3 linked regions of the Homo sapiens genome follow. The protein of the gene in region 1 purifies or fractionates together with the protein of each later gene. This does not show direct contact. Each region holds a gene or a part of one and is shown on either strand. Other genes may lie near its edges.

Region 1 (7,831 bases):
AGCCCCAAGCCCAACCACGGCACATGCAGGCCCCGCCACCTTGAGCACCATGGGGCAGTCTGGGAGGGGCTTATATTGGCATGCCTGGAACCCAAAGATGGAGAGCAGGACTCCCACACACAACAAGACGGCGCCGAAGACAAAGAAGCAGAAGATGAGTTTGCTGACGTGTCTGTCCTGCTGGTCCCCATCTGGCTCAGCAGCAGCTGCAGGAGACATGTCCAGGAGAGGCCCCTTCCCGGAGGCAGGGTGGGATGTGTTTTCTTCCCTCCAAGATTTCAGCAGCTCTGCAAACACAACCAAACACCAAATTAACGTGGGCACAGGTGTTCCAGAACCACCCTGGTTTTTTGCTGATCATTTCTGAAATCACACCACAATGAGGCCTTGGGGGTAGAACTTTATACAACTGATAAGCTGTAGAACAATGAGTTGGTTTATGAGTCAGATAAACTAGCATTCAGAAACTCCTAAATATGTAATTTTACAAGATATTCAAAACAGGAAATTAAATTACTACACATCTAAGGGTATCTTTTTTAAAAACTGAAAGAACAAAAGTAGCTGGGTGTGGCATTTCCTTTTCTGAGTCTTACAAACTCATTTCCCTGGGGAAAAAAGCACTGGTGAATGAGGGAAGAACCACAGGGATTCTTTCTGATTGCAAATGCCCCACTTTTCATCATAGCTGCTCTCAGCATTTTCAAGTCAGTTCAGTAACTAACTTTCCATTTCCTGTTTTAGACTACAGCAGCTTTCCATTTCATGTTTTATTCTAAGGCTACATCTACAAAAGACCCAATTTCAGCAATTTCAATAGAATAAGAAGTCTGTTCAGGAACACAGTGGGTTTGGTGGACTTTTAAGTTGATTCTATCAAAATGTGGTTCTTGAGGCCAGGCGTGGTGGCTTGCGCCTGTAATCCCAGCACTTTGGGAGGCAGAGGCAGGCAGATTGCTTGAGCTCAGGAGTTCGAGACCAGCCTGGGTGACATAGCAAAACCCCATCTCTGCTAAAAATACAAACTTTAGCCAGGCATGGTGCCTGTGGTCCCAGCTACTTGGTAGGCTGAGGTGGGAGGATTGCTTGAGCCCAGGAGCTGGAGGTTGCAGTGAGCCAAGATCACGCCACTACTCTCCAGCCTGGGCAACAGAGTGAGACCCTGCCAAAAACAAAACAAAACAAAACAAAATGGTTCTTGGGTTCTCAACAAGCACAGACTGGTGACCCAGTTGCTTGGATCTGGGATGACCCTGGAAAGTGTTGCACAGCAGGTCAACAGGAGCTCAATTTTCAGAGTGGACAGGTACCCAAAGGCTGGTGTGGCCTCTCACTCACCCTCCTCCATGGTGTCACCTACTTCCACAAAGAGGTTGAGACTCAGTTAAAAAACAAGCAGCCAATAAAACTGCTAGTTATAAAGCACAAAATGGGTGGAAGGGGGGAACTTGGCTTTGAAAGAATAGTATAAGTGGAATCAAGTGAGAAAGCACCTTCCAGAAAATCACCCAAGCCCTGTACTTCAGGGGTATAATATATTAAATATGCCAAGTGGTTGTTAAAGAGTTGTCTAGCTTACACAGAGCTGACCTAATTATCTCGTTATCTTATTTTACTCCAATGAATGGGATATTTTACCAGGACCCCGTAAGTCAGGTCCTGCAATTGCAAAGACAATCCAAAATCGTGAAGACTATTTTCACCTGCCCAAGGAAAGAAAACTTTTAAAATATTTTGTGCCGCTCACATCCATGGTCCCATGAAGGAACTCAAGACTGAGGCCCTAAGCCCAAGATGATCTTGACAAACCAAAATCACACTGAGGGAAGGTCAGTTTAGGTAAAGAAAGCAAACAGGCAATCTTACACTGGGAAAAACTTTTCCAGGAAAAAGTATGATAGAATCAGAAGGAAGTTGGAGAAAAAAAGGAAATATAGGAGGGAAAAAAGCTTTCATTTCAAACTTGGAAAAACTTGATATACAGATGCAGTTAAGCTGAGACAAAGCATTGCACTAATTTTTTAATCTTCCCATTTTTTATTAAGTCAGTAACATCCTGCAGTGAATAAGAATTTCATATTGAGTATACAGTAGTCCTCATTTATCCTACAGGGAGTACATTCCAAAACTCTCAGTGGAATGAAACGATGGAGAGTCCTGAAACCTATATATATTGGTTTTTTGTTATTGTTGTTGTTTTAATTTTTTTCCTGAATCATGCAATCTCTTTTGCGGTTTCGGAGACAAGAAAGAGAAGGGTGATTCTCGGCTGCAAAGTCCTATCAGGAATTCATTTATTCCCAGTATAGTCAACTTTGCAGTGAGTCACAAGGCTTCAACTGTCTTAAGGCAAATTCCCAAACACCAGTAAATAGAAGCCCAAAACTGAATCTGTAGTTTCTTGTCCGTGGACTAGTGGACGGAGCACCTGGCTGAGTGTTCACCTCTGATCCATAATAGTGTGGAAATACTCTCTCTCTCTCCTTCTCCCACAGATGCACTCACAAACGGATACAAAGACACCCACATTCACTCGCAATGAAACCTTTTCCAAACACCACCCTACACTTAAACTCCCCAAAGCCAAACTCCCCTCTCCAACACTCCTATTGGTTTTCCAAAAGACATTTCCAAAATTCACAGCACCTCTCCACGTCCAAAGCTATGGTGCGTTTGGGGAACGAAACGAGAGGCAAATGCCTTCTGTGCGAAATCGGTTTGCGGCTTTTAGGGAGCCCGAGCGCAAGCAACAGCCGGAGGGGCTCGCAGGGACGCAGGTTGGGCTCGGATACCCAGCGCCTCCGCGCTGCCGCGGCTCCCCGCGCCCAGCCTGGCCGCACAGCTCAGCGCCCGACCCGCCGCCGCCGGCGCAGGCGCGCGGGCCGGGGCAGCTTACCTGAAGCTGGGTCCGGCGCCTGGCTGACCGCGCTGCTGTGGGCACTGGCTGGGCGCGGCGTCCGCCTCCGCACGCGGCCTCGGCTGCGCCGGCCGCCCTGCACCCTACCCACCGCGCGTCCTGGTGCGGAGGGCGGACCCGGCAGTATTTAGAGAAGGAGGCGGTGCTGCGCGGGCGCGGCGGCCCGGGGAGGGCAGGGCAGGGCAGTGCAGGAGCGACCGGTGGGAGCTGGCCGCCACTGGGGGCCCGGGGCGCGCCCGCGAGGGAATGGAGAGCCAGGGGCGGCTTCGGAACCCAGGGCTGGCGGGTTTGGCAGCCTCCGCGCTCGTGGCCGTGCGCGCGAGGAATCTGGGAGAAATGGGCACCTTCCACGGCTGCCTGGCCCGCACACCTGGCGGGGCCGGCGAGTTGAGATGCCCCCGCCGGCTGGCGGAACTGTGCGCCCCGCCCGCCGAGGCCCGCTCCCCCTCGAGGCCTGAGGCCCAGTTCTATAGGGGCGCGAGAGAGCGGCGGCGTGGGGGGCGCGGAGGAAGCGCCGGCCCCCGCCTCCACCGCCTCCTTCGTGGTTGCGGCCCAGGCCGAACAGGGTACCGTGCCCCGGCCGCCTTGGCCTTGGCCACCGCGAGGTCCGGGGCGACTACACCCAGCAGCCCTGTGGCCCTCCTACTGCTCTGGAGACCTGGAGTGGGGTTACAGAGGGAAGCGACTCGCTGCGAGCTCCCCATCGAATATGGAGCCACCAGGTCACGGGACGACGTGCGCTCTACAGAATGTGAGACAAGGGCCCTCCACACCCAGCCATTCAGGCCTGAGGTCCTGGCTCCGAGACTGAGGCCGAGACGCGGCAAGCCCCGCGCCGGACCAGCTCTGCCCCTCCCGCACCCACGTGTCTGCGCACAGCCCTCCTTTGCGATAGAACCCCCTTCCTGGTTCTCCACCACTAATGATCTGCCGGAATTAAACTGGTAACTTTCCCTGCCCTTGAACCGGGAGTTTCGGGATGAGTTTGCCAATCCCTGTGCTATTTGTAACCAGCCCCGTGACACGTGATACGGATCCAACTGTGCTAGTTTCCACACCAGGGGTCAGGGCACGGTGGAAGGTGAGTCAAGGGTTCTCTGCCCAAGCGCAGAGGTGCCCTGAGCCACGGGGACTTCCCAGCCCTGCCTTCTCTTCTCAGCTTCCTGTCTGCCTTGCCTGAAACCCTATCTAGAGTTAAGGCCAATGGATGAAACTTTTCAATGTGCAAGCAAGCACTTTACCTACCTGATACAACAAGAGATTCCTGGTCATGCTCACTGAAGGTAAAGTATGAAGCAGGCTTAGCTAATCATCAGAGGTGAGAAGAGACTTAAAGAACCAGTCAGAGAGGTAAAGAGGGGAGGGGGTTACCTGGGCTTTAGGGTTCACCAGGGAGGCAGAACGGACAAGTTCTTGCCATTGGAATTTGGTGGGGCACTTGCCTGGGTGGCCAAAGGTGGACTTTTTCATAGCCAGGGTGCCCGACCTCTGTAAATCCCCGCCATAACTAACAGCCCTGATTACTGTCGAAATGAACAATGCCAACACTCACGACCCCTTGCTTTGTGGTTCTTTGCTACATCTCTCCAGCAGTTCAGAAAAGGTTGGAGGCAGCAGGGGACAGGAGACTGAGAAAAACAGTCATTTGTCAGTTGAGGAAACTGAGGTCCAGGCTGACAGAGGTAAAGTAACCTCTGCAGCTGGTTGACATGCAGAGAAGGCCTGAGCCAGATGCAGATGCGCTGACCATTCAGTGTTTCTCCCGCAGCACACCTGTCACTCAGAGAACACACCATGCTGTGAACCCAGAAAACGCCCTCATGGCCTTGTGATGCCAAGCACGTTTAGATTATTATAACAATACAGGCACTGTGTCCCAAGGACATTGCAGTAATCTATGTTTGGGGTGGAGATATCCTTCCTGGTCCAAGTGTCAAGGTATACCACCTTCTGGAAGGGCACCAAAGCATGTCCAGCGAATGGGCAGATACCCAAGAGTGGATTGTACAACAGCAGGCACTGGCTTTCTAAGAACTCAGGCCCTCATTATAGGATTTGTCCCCTCTGACACAGGCCTGTGAACAACTCTTCATTGTGCAAAAGGGTTTCCTTGTCCTTTCCCTACTCATTCTTCCCTTCCCCCTTATTTGAAACTGAATCTCTGGCCATGTCATGTGCAGGCCTGCAAGGGGCCTGTTGATACAGCTGCCCCTCTGGTGCCACATGACTGCAGGCTCACCACCCATGACAGACTTGAATATCCTGGCACCAAGGACAATCAGATTAGCCTCCACTTGGTATATCTGCTGTTCTCACTGTTTGTGTCTATGAGAGCCTGTTTGACTAAATTAAACTCCTTGGAAATTGATCATCGATTATGTATGAAAGACATACCCACCAGCCTTTGAGGTACTTATCTTTGTAGCCCACCTAGCCTTAGGAGAGAAGCTGCGTGGCCTGGTCACTATCTAGTGGTCTTCCCTGGCCTGTGTGGTAGTGAAAAAGATAAAAGCCAGACCGAATCCTTAGAAAAACAGCATCAGAACAAGATTAAAAACCTCGAATTCAGTGACTGTAGAAGCATAAAGCAGAGGCATGTGTTCATGTATTTAGCCAGCACAGATTTACCAACTACCAATAAAACACGGAACTTGTATTTTATTGAGGAGAAAGGCAATAAAATATGTAAGTTATACAGAGAATTAGAAAGTGATTGAGTGCCAGGGAGAACAATAAATCACAGATGGGGACTGGGGAGCACCCCATTTTAAATAGGGGAGTTAAGGAAGGCATCTCTGAGAAGGTGAGATTGCAGCAAAAACTTGAAGGGAATGAGGAAGCAAGTGTATCAATGATCTATTATTGCATAACAACTTACCCCAAAACTTTGAAGTTTGAAACAGCAAAAATGTATTCTCAGGGTTTCTGATCAGGGTCAGAAACTGCAAGTGGCTTAGCTGGGTACTTCTGGCTGAGCCTCTCAGAGGCTGCAGTCTAGCAGTTGGCCAGGGCTGTGGTCATCTGAAGGCTGGACTGGGGCTGGAGGATCTGCTGCCAAGGTGGCACATTCACAGGGCTATTGGCAGGAGGCCTCAGTTCCTCACTATGTGGATTTCTCCACCCAGCCTCCCCTCACGTGAGTGATCCAAGGGAGAGCAAACAAAGGGGAAGCTGTGGTGCCTTTTCTGACGAGGCTCTGCACTTCCATACCATCACTTCTCTTTATTCTGGTCCTTAGAATTGAGTCACAAAGTCAAGGGGAATGGGATTAGGTGCCACCTCTTGTAGGGAAGAGTAAGAATTTGTAAGCATAGTTCGTGATTTTTTGTGGGAAGTAGGGAAGAGTGCTTCAGGCAGAAGTAACCACAGGTGCAAAGGCCCTGAGGTAGGAACACACATATTAGCATATTCAAAGGAGAGCAAGAGGCCAGGGTGGCTGCAGTTGGTGAGCAAGGGGGAGAGTAGGAGAGGAGGTCAGAGAGGAAAGGCATGTGCAGGGCCAAGGGCACCAGGTTGTGCAGGGCCTTTAAGTAGGTGGGAAGCCTTTGAATGGTTTTTGAGCTGATGTGATGAGCTTTGACAGTGATGTGATCTGATTTCTTTTAAAAAAGAAATTGGTGGCTGTTGCAGTAAGAATAGCCCAAGGAGGAGCCAGGATGGATGGGAAGAGGCCAGTTAGGAGGCTGTGGTAACAACCCAGGAGTTATGTCTGTAGCTTGTGTATGAAGGTGATGAAAGGGATGAGACTTTGGATATATCTTGAAGATAGAGTCAATGGGATTTTCCATGAACCACATGTGGGTTTTGATTCCAAGGTTTTGGATCTGAGCAAGTGGAAGAATGGTTCTGGCATGAGCAAGATGGGGAATCCTAAGAGTGGGACAAGTTTGAGAGGAGGAGCTTCAGAGTCCATTTGGGGACATGTTAATTTTGTCCATTAGACATCCGAGTAGAGAAGCTGAGTAGGCAATTGAATATGGAGGCTTGGAGTTCAGGAATTCGGAAGGAATACTTTCCTGTGGTCTGTGAGTGACATTACAAAATTGAGGAGGCTGGGCTCCCTCTCTGGAAGAGTAACAATTAGTCCTTTGGAGGGTTCTAAACACACAAAGCAAGGGAGGGGCTGGTGCCAACCAAGTGCAGTTTTCAGATGTTTCTGGGGTGCAGAGCACAGCTAGTGCGGCTGGGAGGCATGAGTTTCACCCAGAGCAGGGGGCTTCTGCTGCTCTGTTCCCAAAACAGTGCCCTAAGGAACACATATCTTTCACTTCAACAAGACAGGCCACGTATTTCTTCCCAGGGCACTGCCAACCCTGAGAAGAAACTCAGGGCAAGTGGATTGACCTGCAGAATTCAGTGGCACCATTTTTCAGAATTCATAAGATGGCAGAAAGACAATCAGCTAATCAAGTCTGCCAACTTCTAGGTCTCTTTTCTCTTTTGGTCTCTTTCTAATTCTGCCCCAAATTAATCTTAGCACCCAGAAGCACACATTTCCCTGCTTCCAATTTCTGATGTTTTCTGAGCCCCAGCTGGGCTTGGTTTATAGGAATTTATTCTTGAGCGCTCAGTCTTGGGTCCATGTTTCAACACATATTTCCAGGACTCCCAATGACTCCTCTGAACCAACCTGGGCCCCATCCAGCTGTATAACCCTGAAAAGGGTGTACCAAAGTCCCTGGGATATTTTCCTCCTCCCTAACCCCCAGGTCGGACTTAGACCCAGGGGCTTCAGAGACATATCAGGAGTGCAAGTAGAGGCTGACTAATTTGGAAAGCTTGAATTAAGGGTTTAGACTGGCTCCCTTAGCTGATCCTAGTGCAAAGGCTAATCTTTTGCAGAGTCATTTTATGGCGTGAGATGGTGCTGTTGATTTTGCACAGTTAATAACAGCTCAGCCTGAGTGCTGCTAG
Region 2 (3,352 bases), on another chromosome or scaffold:
CTGCCCCTGTATCTCCTGAGTCAGTAAAGGCTACTCTTAGTAATCCCAAACCCCAGAAGCAGTCTCATTTCCCGGAAACATTGGGGCCACCTTCAGCCTCATCTCCAGAGTCACCAGTTCTAGCTGCTTCCCCAGAACCTTGGGGACCATCCCCAGCTGCATCTCCAGAATCTCGGAAGTCAGCCCGGACTACCTCCCCTGAGCCAAGGAAGCCATCCCCTTCAGAGTCTCCTGAACCTTGGAAGCCGTTCCCTGCTGTCTCCCCAGAGCCTAGGAGACCAGCCCCCGCTGTGTCACCAGGCTCTTGGAAACCAGGGCCACCTGGGTCCCCTAGGCCTTGGAAATCCAATCCTTCAGCATCATCAGGACCTTGGAAGCCAGCTAAACCTGCTCCATCTGTGTCTCCTGGACCTTGGAAACCAATTCCTTCTGTATCTCCTGGACCTTGGAAACCAACTCCATCTGTGTCTTCTGCATCCTGGAAATCTTCATCAGTCTCACCCAGCTCCTGGAAGTCTCCCCCTGCATCTCCTGAGTCATGGAAGTCTGGCCCACCAGAACTCCGAAAGACAGCTCCCACGTTGTCTCCTGAACATTGGAAGGCAGTTCCCCCAGTGTCTCCAGAGCTTCGCAAACCCGGCCCACCACTATCCCCAGAGATCCGTAGTCCAGCAGGATCTCCAGAGCTCAGAAAACCCTCAGGGTCACCAGATCTTTGGAAGCTTTCTCCTGATCAGCGGAAAACTTCTCCTGCTTCACTTGATTTCCCTGAGTCCCAGAAAAGTTCCCGTGGTGGTTCTCCTGATCTCTGGAAGTCTTCCTTTTTTATTGAGCCTCAGAAACCTGTCTTCCCTGAGACCCGAAAACCAGGTCCTTCTGGGCCATCTGAGTCCCCCAAAGCAGCCTCAGATATCTGGAAGCCTGTTCTCTCTATCGATACTGAGCCTAGAAAACCTGCCCTGTTTCCCGAGCCTGCCAAAACAGCCCCTCCTGCTTCTCCAGAAGCACGCAAACGTGCCCTTTTTCCAGAGCCCCGGAAGCATGCCCTTTTCCCTGAACTCCCCAAATCTGCTCTATTCTCAGAATCACAGAAGGCTGTTGAGCTTGGTGATGAACTACAAATAGATGCCATAGATGATCAAAAATGTGATATTTTGGTTCAGGAAGAACTTCTAGCTTCACCTAAGAAACTCTTAGAAGATACTTTATTTCCTTCCTCAAAGAAGCTCAAGAAAGACAACCAAGAGAGCTCAGACGCTGAGCTTAGTAGTAGTGAGTACATAAAAACAGATTTGGATGCGATGGATATTAAGGGCCAGGAATCAAGCAGTGATCAAGAGCAGGTTGATGTGGAATCCATTGATTTTAGCAAAGAGAACAAAATGGACATGACTAGTCCAGAGCAGTCTAGAAATGTGCTACAGTTTACTGAAGAAAAAGAAGCTTTTATCTCTGAAGAGGAGATTGCAAAATACATGAAGCGTGGAAAAGGAAAGTATTATTGCAAAATTTGTTGCTGTCGTGCTATGAAAAAAGGTGCTGTTTTGCATCATTTGGTTAATAAGCATAATGTTCATAGCCCTTACAAATGCACAATCTGTGGAAAGGCTTTTCTTTTGGAATCTCTCCTTAAAAATCATGTAGCAGCCCATGGGCAAAGTTTACTTAAATGTCCACGTTGTAATTTTGAATCAAATTTCCCAAGAGGTTTTAAGAAACATTTAACTCATTGTCAAAGCCGGCATAATGAAGAGGCAAATAAAAAGCTAATGGAAGCTCTTGAACCGCCACTGGAGGAGCAGCAAATTTGATAACACAGTGTGAATATTTGTTCTACAAAGGTGTTTGTTGGAACCATTCTTTGTAAGTATAGCTTATCAGATAGCATAGTTGGATCAGTAGATGACATGTATGGTGTACCGTGTTTCACTGTCTCAGTTGTGTTACTAAGAATGAGCATTTGATCATTTTTTTCTGGTCTCTGTCTATGTGACTATCTTGTAAGTCAATAAATTTCTGTATAGTCCAGATGGATTAAACTTCTCATTTCTTTTAAATATGTATGAATAATAATACAAGGAAGTAGGCATTCCATTTAATAATCAAGAGCAAGTTGTACTCAAAGCATTCAGTTAAAGTGTATCTGTGTGTGGAACTAATTTCAGACAATAGAAAATATTAGTTGAAATGTTTAAGAATTAGGCATGAAAAATAAATTTGAGAAATTTTGTTTCCTTACATGTATTTTTAAATCATAAGAGTTATTTTCTATCTGATGTAAAATTAGTTTATAAATCTTAATCAGCTTCTAGATGTTTATTAGCTTTTATGTCATGAAATGTTGGAGTCTCAGGGTTGCTGATTTTCTGCTAATGGGAAAAATTGACTAAGTCTTTAAAATAGTTTGCAGCCTTCTCCCACAGGAGACAAGTGAAAGATAAGTGTGATTTTAGATCTTTCTTGTCCATAGTTGTTTTCAGTGGAGTCTTCCATTCTGTATCTTACCCTAAGATCTGGTTCTTCCCTCCCCATCCCCACCCCCCACCCACCGCCTGCCAGCTCACACTAATAGATGATTCTTAATTGCCAAATGTGTTAGAGTTTGTATATCCTACTCCTGGGCCTTACATGTCGCCTGTTGGGGCTTAAGACCAGGTTGATAAGTAGGAACTGAAAGTCTTCCAGATTCACAGTAGAAAATTTTATAGACATTTCTGTTAAAGAAATATATCGATTTTATGTTTTTCAATTATGTTACTGTAAATACCTTGTACCTGTTCATGGATTATTTTATTCTAAAATATTTTGTCAAATGTGTATCAACCAAATTAAAAAGAAAGGTTTTCATGTCAGCAACATCTTCATGTGTGTTTTCTTTTGTGTAGTTTTCATTGTATGATATACAGATCCATTATTTCCATGTTTTCAACATAGTTTTCTTATCTGGAGCAGCATTTTCTTAGCTGTGTTTTCTCCAAGTTCTGTGGTCAAGTAAGTTAGGGGAATGCGTGTATAGGGAGGACTCTGTGTCAAAAACCTCATCCTTTCATATGAAAGGTTTTTTAATTCCAGTGGTTGCCTATCCTGCCTGCCTCTAAACAGTGTGAGGCATTTAATCTCAAAGCATTCTGATGTGTAGCCAGGATTGAGATGCTGTACTGGGTTTATTTTAGCTATTCCCAGACATTTTTTTAACAAGGAACAGTTTTGTCCTAGTTCCCCACCCGCTGGCTTCCCTATTAATATGCCCGTTGGGATAGCTTAACAATATTTAGTAATATGGTTTGGCTCTGTGTCCACACTCAAATCTCTCTCTTTTTATTTTTGTTTTTTATTTTGAGACCGATCCTTG
Region 3 (7,032 bases), on another chromosome or scaffold:
GTAGAGACAGGGTTTCACCATGTTGGCCAGGCTGGTCTCGAGCTCCTGGCATCAAGTGATCCGCCTGCCTTGGCCTCCCAAAGTGCTGGGATTACAGGCATGAGCCACCATGCCTGGCCTGCCTTTTCTTAAATTAGAAGCCAAGGTGGAAGAATTGCTTGAGACCAGGAGTTTGAGACCCCAGCAAGACCTCACTGCTACAAAAATAAGGTAATTAGGGTGTCACAGTGCACACCTGTAGTTCCAGCTGCTTGGGTAGGCTGAGTGGGGAGGATCACTTGAGCCCAGGGGTTGGAGGCTACAGTGAGCTATGATCACGCCACTGGACTCCAGCCCAGGTGACAGAGCGATACCATCTCTAAAACAAAACAAAACAAAAAACACCCAATTATGAAAAATCCCAAGCACTCCCAGCCTGGCCAACATGGTGAAACCCCGTCTCCACTAAATATACAAAAATTAGCCAGGTGTGGTGGCGTGTGCCTGTAATCCCAGCTACTCGGGAGGCTGAGGCAGGAGAATCGCTTGAACCCAGGAGGCGGAGGTTGCAGTGAGCCTAGATCGTGCTGCTGCACTCCAGCCTGGGAGACAGAGCGAGACTCCATCTCAAAACAAAACACCAAGCAGCCCGACCGCAGTAGGGCCTTCTTCCTATTGGGCAGCACTCGCTGGGGCTGGGAGGAGGCTGTGTCCCCTTTGGACAGGCACATCCTGGAGCTGGGAGGAGACTGTCTCCTTTGGACAGGGACATCCTTGCCAGTTCACCACGGTCGCCGCTCTTTCCTCTTTGCTCACTGTGTTTCTTAGTACACATGTTTGAGTTTGCAGCTGACTCAGAGTAAGAGATGGAGAGGAGGTTCTGGAGAATTCATAAGGGGCAGGGACATATGGCGGCAGGCAGGCTGGAGAGCTGCCTCTGCTGGGCACGAGTCAAGGGTTCAAGGCTAAGTGAGCCCCGCTCAGGTCCCACACAACCCCAGCAGTGGTCCCGATGGACGGTCTGCATCTCTCTACCAGCCTTCTCCCTCTACTCAGAGGGCCAGAGAGCAGCTCCCTGCCCCTCCCAGGACATAGCTTGGGGGAGGATTCGCAGCGTGGTCGGCCAGGCTCCTACCTGGATCTCCTCCTGGTACATCTTCAGGCTCAGGTCGCTCTTGGTCCTTGATCGCCGTCCCAGAAACACCATGGAATGTTGCTAAGGAAGAGCAGAGGCTGCAGGGCTCGGCTGCAGATATTCAGGTCCCACCCCTGGTGCCACAGTTGGCGTCTCCCACTTCTCTGGCTTTTGCAACTGTGTCACTCAAAATGTTACCAATATCTGAGGGAAGGGATTATGCCACCCACACTGAAACCTGCCTCCCTCCTTCGGACCAGGGCCTGGGCTCCTCACCTGGTATCTCTCCATCTGGGAGAGGGTCTCCAGCAGCCTGGTGACATCCGAGGAGGCCCCCCGTGCCTCCCGGTAGAGCTCCAGGACGGCAACCAGCTCTTCTTTGGAGATTTCCTTCTCAAGGGTGATGCCACCATCAACTGCAGGGATGGAAGGCAGGTGTGGGAAGGGCCCGGGGCTGCAGCTGCCAACCTGGCTGGGTCTCGTACCTCCTTGCCCCCTTCCGCAGGGGGTCTTAAGGTTCTCTCTCTAAACCGACACTGCATTGGTGTCCTGCTCTCCTCGTTGGCCCTCCTTTCCCTTCCCCTCCCTCTGCTGTGATGTCAGGAGCGCAGGTCTAGCTGGCAGCTGTTACAGGGCCAGAGGGTTTCAGGAAGGGGCCTCTAAGCACAGAGAAAATGGTCAGATGGTCTGATAGCACAGAGATCTGAGGATGAGAGGTAACAAGTGTGGGCACAGGGTTTTCTGTTTCTTTTAAGAGACAGGGTCTCACTCCGCTGCCCAGGCTGGAGTGCAGTGGTGTGATCATGGCTCACTGCAGTCTTGACCTCCTGGGCTCAAGAGATCAAGTGCAGACAGTTTTGATGGAGAATTTGGGAAGAAGGGAGGGTCAGCACACAGAAAGCTGTGCAATCTGGGAAGAGTGAGGCAGTCACTAAAGCCAGCACCATCCAGTTGCAGCAGGAATACGATTCGCCTGTGCCATAAGCAATATTTACACCATTTAAATCAAGAACCGTAGTGTGAACCTATTATTGAGAAACGTGGAGATGACTAACAGAAGAAATAGCCAAGAAGGAGAAGCCTCTGGAGGACGGGAGGGAAAGGCAGGGCAGGGGCTGCTGCTGCCACATAAGCCTTTCTCTACTTCTTGATTTTTCTCCAACTATGACATGCTCTGTCTTATTTTAAAGTTAGATTACGTTTTCTGACATTAAATATTTGAAAATCAATGCAAATACAAGATCTAGAAAGACAAGCCAGATAGATAAGCTGGACAGCCAGACAGCAGAAAAATGACAGCCTGATGGCTGGCTGGACAGCCACCCAGACAGACAGACAGAGCTGGGTAGGCGGCAGATATCAAATGCCCAAGGCATCATCCCTGCACAGACCTTCCGAGTCCTGGTTCTTGCGGCTGTAGTTCATTCGGAAGACGAAGGCCTCGAGGATAAAGGCGACAATGATCGTCATCACCACCTGGCCAGGGATAGGGAGGGAGGGGCAGAGGCAGGGGAGGAGGGTGGGTAGGTGTCCGTGGCTGCGCAGCCCACGCCCAACAGAGTCCGGCCAGATGGGACCCAGCCCCACTCCCTGACGCTGCAGGCTGAAGAGCAGGGGCAGCTGGTGATGTGGAAGACGAAGGACAAAGAGCGTTCTGTGGTCCGGGACCTACCATGGTCACAATGTAAAAGGTCATGAAGTAGAGGCGGCTCCAGTGGGAGGTCTGAGAGGTGACGCCTTCCTGGAGACCAAGGGAAGCAGCCAGTGAGGGGGTGCCCATGCAGGGCAGGTCCCCGTCTACACAGGCTGCTCCATGGCCCCGGCTCTTCGCAGACCCCACCGTGATTTGTGGCTGGTTGTGAGAGATGGAGGAGAGGAAGCTTGCCCCTCTGGGCCTAACACTAATTCCTGACTGCTGAAGGAGCCCTGGCCACTCCCCTGGACGACTGGATCCAGAACCAGGGCAGCCTTTATCCCAGTAGGGCTGGGAGTCGGGAAAGTTTAAGGAATGGAATAAAGAGATCAGCAATGCTCGCCACTTTGTCACTAGAGGGAAAAGTCATCTCTACAGTGGGCGAGACAGGACAGAGACCCAGAGTCTAAGTGGCATCTCCTGGCTGCTGGGGACATGCAGGGAGATGGGAGTAACAGCCGAGTCCAGCCAACACTGGGAGGGGTGGCTCCTGGGGCCCAGCCATCCTGTGGCCTCCCCACTGAACACCAACACAGCATGACTCAAGACCCCCAGCCCTGCAAGCTACGGGAAGAATTATATACTCTGGGTTGGGGGAGACCCAGGGCCGACCCCAGGGCTGGCGGGAAGATACCCCCAGAGCTGCCCGAGCTCTTACCATGATGATGTACCAGTTGTTGACAACTGTGAGCTCAAACAGGGTCACTGCCGAGGGAAGAGAGAAAGAAGCATCCTGATGAGACCCCACTTCAAAGTCAATTTCAAGTGGCCTCTTGCCACCTATCCTGGGTGCCATGTGCTAAGATGAGAGGGTCACCATATGACCGCTTGGGTTGTGAGCTCCAGGAAAGACCAGGCAAGGCACTCCTAGGGCGCTGGCTCCACAGGACATCATGGCCTGCCCCCAAGAGAACACACCCTCTGCCTCAGCAGCCTGTGCCACATCAGACTATCTGGATCTTACTGGGTGCAGATCTGGGGTGTCATGGGGGCACACCCTTTTTCTGGAGAGGCGGTTTGGCTGTGTTCGCCTCTTCATGGGAGTGGGCAGAGGGCTGTGTGCAGTCTGAGCCAGGGGGCAGTGCAGCTGCAGCAGCAGTGGTGTGGCTGGGTCCCATTCTGCAAGTGGCACTGTGATGAGGGGACCCCGCCCAGCTAAGGCTTGCAACTCTTGTCCTCCCCGGTACTGAGAAAATATCAGGAAAGAGTGGAATCAGGCAACTGAGTGAGCTCCAGGATCCAGCCTGGACTGTACTGCCAAAGCTGGGCAGACCAAGTCCTCCACCTGGGCCAGGGAGGCTTCCAGAAAGTGTGGCCCAGACACTTGCTACACCACCTCTGGGACCCGTGGTGACAAGGGTGACAAGGGTGGGGTCCCCAGGGAATGTGCCCCCTGTGATTTTTCCCACTCACCAAAGCTGTTGAGGATGTTGTCAAAATTATTGAGATAATAGTAGCCTTCCTCCACCACGGTCCTGTTGCCCACGGTGTGGTTGCGCCAGCGGTAGGCATCTGCCACTGTACTCGTGCTGGCCGGAGCACAAGGGAGAAAGGAGGGAGGGTCACAAGGCGATCAGTCACCTCCAGAGAGGACAGAAGTCTGAAACAAACCGAGTTCTGGCCAAGGATCCTTCTGTTCTGCCCGCAGCCTGGTTTCCTGCCTAACCCTCTCCACCTCATGCCTGGGTCCCTGCTGAAGGAATGCCCTTGGCTATTCCTGCCTGCTGGGCTTGGCGGGATCCCCTGGCCAGCCTGACCCACCTCTGTCACCTGGAAGTTGTCTGCTGCAGGCAGGGCCTTCTCTCTCACCGTTGCTTGCAGGGGAGGGAGGAGAGGCAAGGGCCTCCTCTGCACCTGCCCCATCTAGGATCTGCTCTTGAGGCTGGACACTAGGCCACAGTCCCAGGGAAGGAATTCCCTACTGGGGCTTCCCCAATACTTGGCCTGAGCAAGTATTTGAAAAGGTTGGCCCTGTTTTGAGGAGCTCTTATTTGCCACTTTCCTTCCAATCTTTTATGGCTGTTCTGTTAATATCCATGCTAATGTTTATAAAAGTCTAGTGCTTGGGCCACCAGGGAGCCTCCTCCCACACGCATGCATCAGACACAAGAGTGAGGTCTGGAGCTTGCACTAAGCTCCCTGGTGACTGCAATGGGCTCTAAAGTCTGGGACCCACTGCTATAGGCTTCTGGTTCCAGACCAAGCTTGACACTCAAACTGGGTCTCAAAGCTACCAGTGTCTTTGTAAAACTGTTTCTTCATCGGTGCTTGAGGCTGTAAAGACCAAATGTAAGAGGACTCTCTGAATTGAGGATGAATGAATGGCAGTGTGCAGTGATTTCACTGTGGCGGCTCAGGAGAAAGGGAGTGCTCATGGGAGATTTCACTCTCTGCTCCCCATCCCTGAGCACCATGACCTTCCTGCACGTGTCCGTCTGTCTTATCCTACGATGCTGTCCCTAGAAGACTGGTCTTGGCCCAGGTCCCCAGCCACTCCAGGAGAGAAGTGGGAGGAAGCCATGGGACTTGACCTTGGGACCCAGGCTACTGTGGGGGTGGCCTCCAGCCCTCGGCAGAGGGTGAGCTGACAGCTCCCAACCCTGCCTGGGGGATGGAGAAACAGGGACCCCGAGTCCAGGCCCCTCATTTAGCTCACTGCACTCAACTAAGCCCTGAAAGCAAAGCAAGGTGGTTGCTTAGACAGGAACATCCCCGAGGACCCCAAGGCCACAAGGACACCAATCCTGGCCCTGGCCAGCCCTCTGCCCGGGAAATGCAGGCTGCCTGGGGCTGGGTGGGGCCTACTCACTTGCAGCAGTTGGGGAAGACGATCCCGCAGAAGAACTCCATGCCCACGATGGCGAAGGAGTAGTAAAAGATGAGCAGGGTGAGGCCCAGGCTGTGGGGCGACAGGGGCAGGGTGACGCGGGGCCGGCAGGAGGGAACGGCTCCTCTGCAGCCCCGGCCTCCTCGGACCCGTGGGGCTGACTGCAGGGCCATGCCCCTGGTCGGTTCACCAACTGGAAAGTGCCTGCGGGGAAGGGGCCTCGTGGGGCAGCTCTGGGGTGAAAAACAGCTCAAGTCAGGACGCTATGAACAAATGCCCCTTTCCCAGAGATTCACCCCTTACCTGTGAAGGTAGACTCACAGGTGACCCCTTACCTGTGAATGTAGACACAGGTGGTAAGCGAGTTGACAGCTCCCTGCCCTCCCTACTAAATATGTCAGACAGGTCAGTGGAGAAAAATGGTGCCCAGGAGACCTGTGGTGGTCAAGATTCCAGGCTCCTTGGAGCCCCGTCAGGCCCTCGATTGCAGTCCTTTGTGGAACTCCTTTCCCCCGACTGCCACTCGGCTCCCGCCCCCACGGGGCACTGCCACACGGCACCTGGACCTGCAGGCCAGGGTGGGGGCTGGCAGTACCTGGCCATCCGGGGCAGCAGCTCGAACATGGTGTCCAGCACGTTGCGGTAGCGCTCCTTCAACTTAAACAACCTGAGCGAGGAGGACACCCGTCACCTCCACACACAGGTGCACGCCTCAGCCCCCGCCCTCAGAACATGCCGGCCCCGCCTTCCACACGCCATGCGGTGAAGACAGGTGAGGGCCTCTCCTCCACCTGCGTCCACTCCCTTGGGCGCCACCAACCCTGAGCTGGGCTCAGGTGATTCATGCATGAGGGAAGGGATGGTGGCAGCCCCAGGACACCGGCTGGGCGGGGTCCTTCCACGAAGAGGAGCAGGGCCAGGCCACATCTCCTTGCAGTAGAGCTGCAGGCTCAGACAGGAGCAAGGCCTTGCTCCTGGGAAAGAGCGGGGAGAAGCCCATGTGCCCCGGGGAGCGGGGGCAATGGAGCTCACCAGTGAAGAAGGGTGGCAGGGGGCGGGACGGAGGCGGACACTCAGGAGCAGCCCCAGGCCACCCCCACACGCCAAGGGGGTAGGCTTTTCCTCCATAGACGCCACCACCCCTCCCCGCACCTGCCCCGCCTGTCCCGCCTTGGGAGAGGATGGGGCGGACGTGGATGGGGTTGCAGCTGGAGGGTCAGGAGGCAAGCCCAGGCTCTGAGGGCACAGGACCTCGGGACCCCTCATTAGGAAGAGACACCGTCAGTGGGGCAGGCTCGTCTGGGACTTTCTCCAGTGTCCCTGGGAAACCAGTGGGACCCACACGAGGGTTTTTCTCCATAAGACGCTGAGCCAGAAAAGCACGCAGGGCCCCTGAAA

What was found.
Region 2: the proteins of TMEM171 (region 1) and CHAMP1 purify together in Homo sapiens (affinity purification with mass spectrometry; 3 studies listed by BioGRID and IntAct, with this or other methods). This does not show direct contact.
Region 3: the proteins of TMEM171 (region 1) and TPCN1 purify together in Homo sapiens (affinity purification with mass spectrometry; 4 studies listed by BioGRID and IntAct, with this or other methods). This does not show direct contact.

What each region holds. Positions count from the first base shown.
Region 1 is NC_000005.10:73,115,762-73,123,592, reverse strand, and holds the start of TMEM171 (transmembrane protein 171), read right to left. Parts: upstream 3,019-7,831; 5' UTR 2,897-3,018; intron 288-2,896; 5' UTR 220-287; coding exon 1-219. Other genes in the region: uncharacterized protein LOC124901001, read left to right, coding at 3,164-3,865.
Region 2 is NC_000013.11:114,324,471-114,327,822, forward strand, and holds the end of CHAMP1 (chromosome alignment-maintaining phosphoprotein 1), read left to right. Parts: coding exon 1-1,811; 3' UTR 1,812-2,852; downstream 2,853-3,352. UniProt on the Homo sapiens protein: Required for proper alignment of chromosomes at metaphase and their accurate segregation during mitosis. Involved in the maintenance of spindle microtubules attachment to the kinetochore during sister chromatid biorientation.
Region 3 is NC_000012.12:113,287,432-113,294,463, reverse strand, and holds part of TPCN1 (two pore channel protein 1), read right to left. Parts: intron 6,302-7,032; coding exon 6,230-6,301; exon of another isoform or gene 5,970-6,229; coding exon of another isoform or gene 5,966-5,969; exon of another isoform or gene 5,938-5,965; intron 5,868-5,937; exon of another isoform or gene 5,805-5,867; intron 5,707-5,804; coding exon 5,617-5,706; intron 4,337-5,616; coding exon 4,221-4,336; intron 3,513-4,220; coding exon 3,466-3,512; intron 2,942-3,465; exon of another isoform or gene 2,856-2,941; coding exon 2,787-2,855; intron 2,591-2,786; coding exon 2,506-2,590; intron 1,531-2,505; coding exon 1,391-1,530; intron 1,196-1,390; coding exon 1,115-1,195; intron 1-1,114. UniProt on the Homo sapiens protein: Intracellular channel initially characterized as a non-selective Ca(2+)-permeable channel activated by NAADP (nicotinic acid adenine dinucleotide phosphate), it is also a voltage-gated highly-selective Na(+) channel activated directly by PI(3,5)P2 (phosphatidylinositol 3,5-bisphosphate) that senses pH changes and confers electrical excitability to organelles.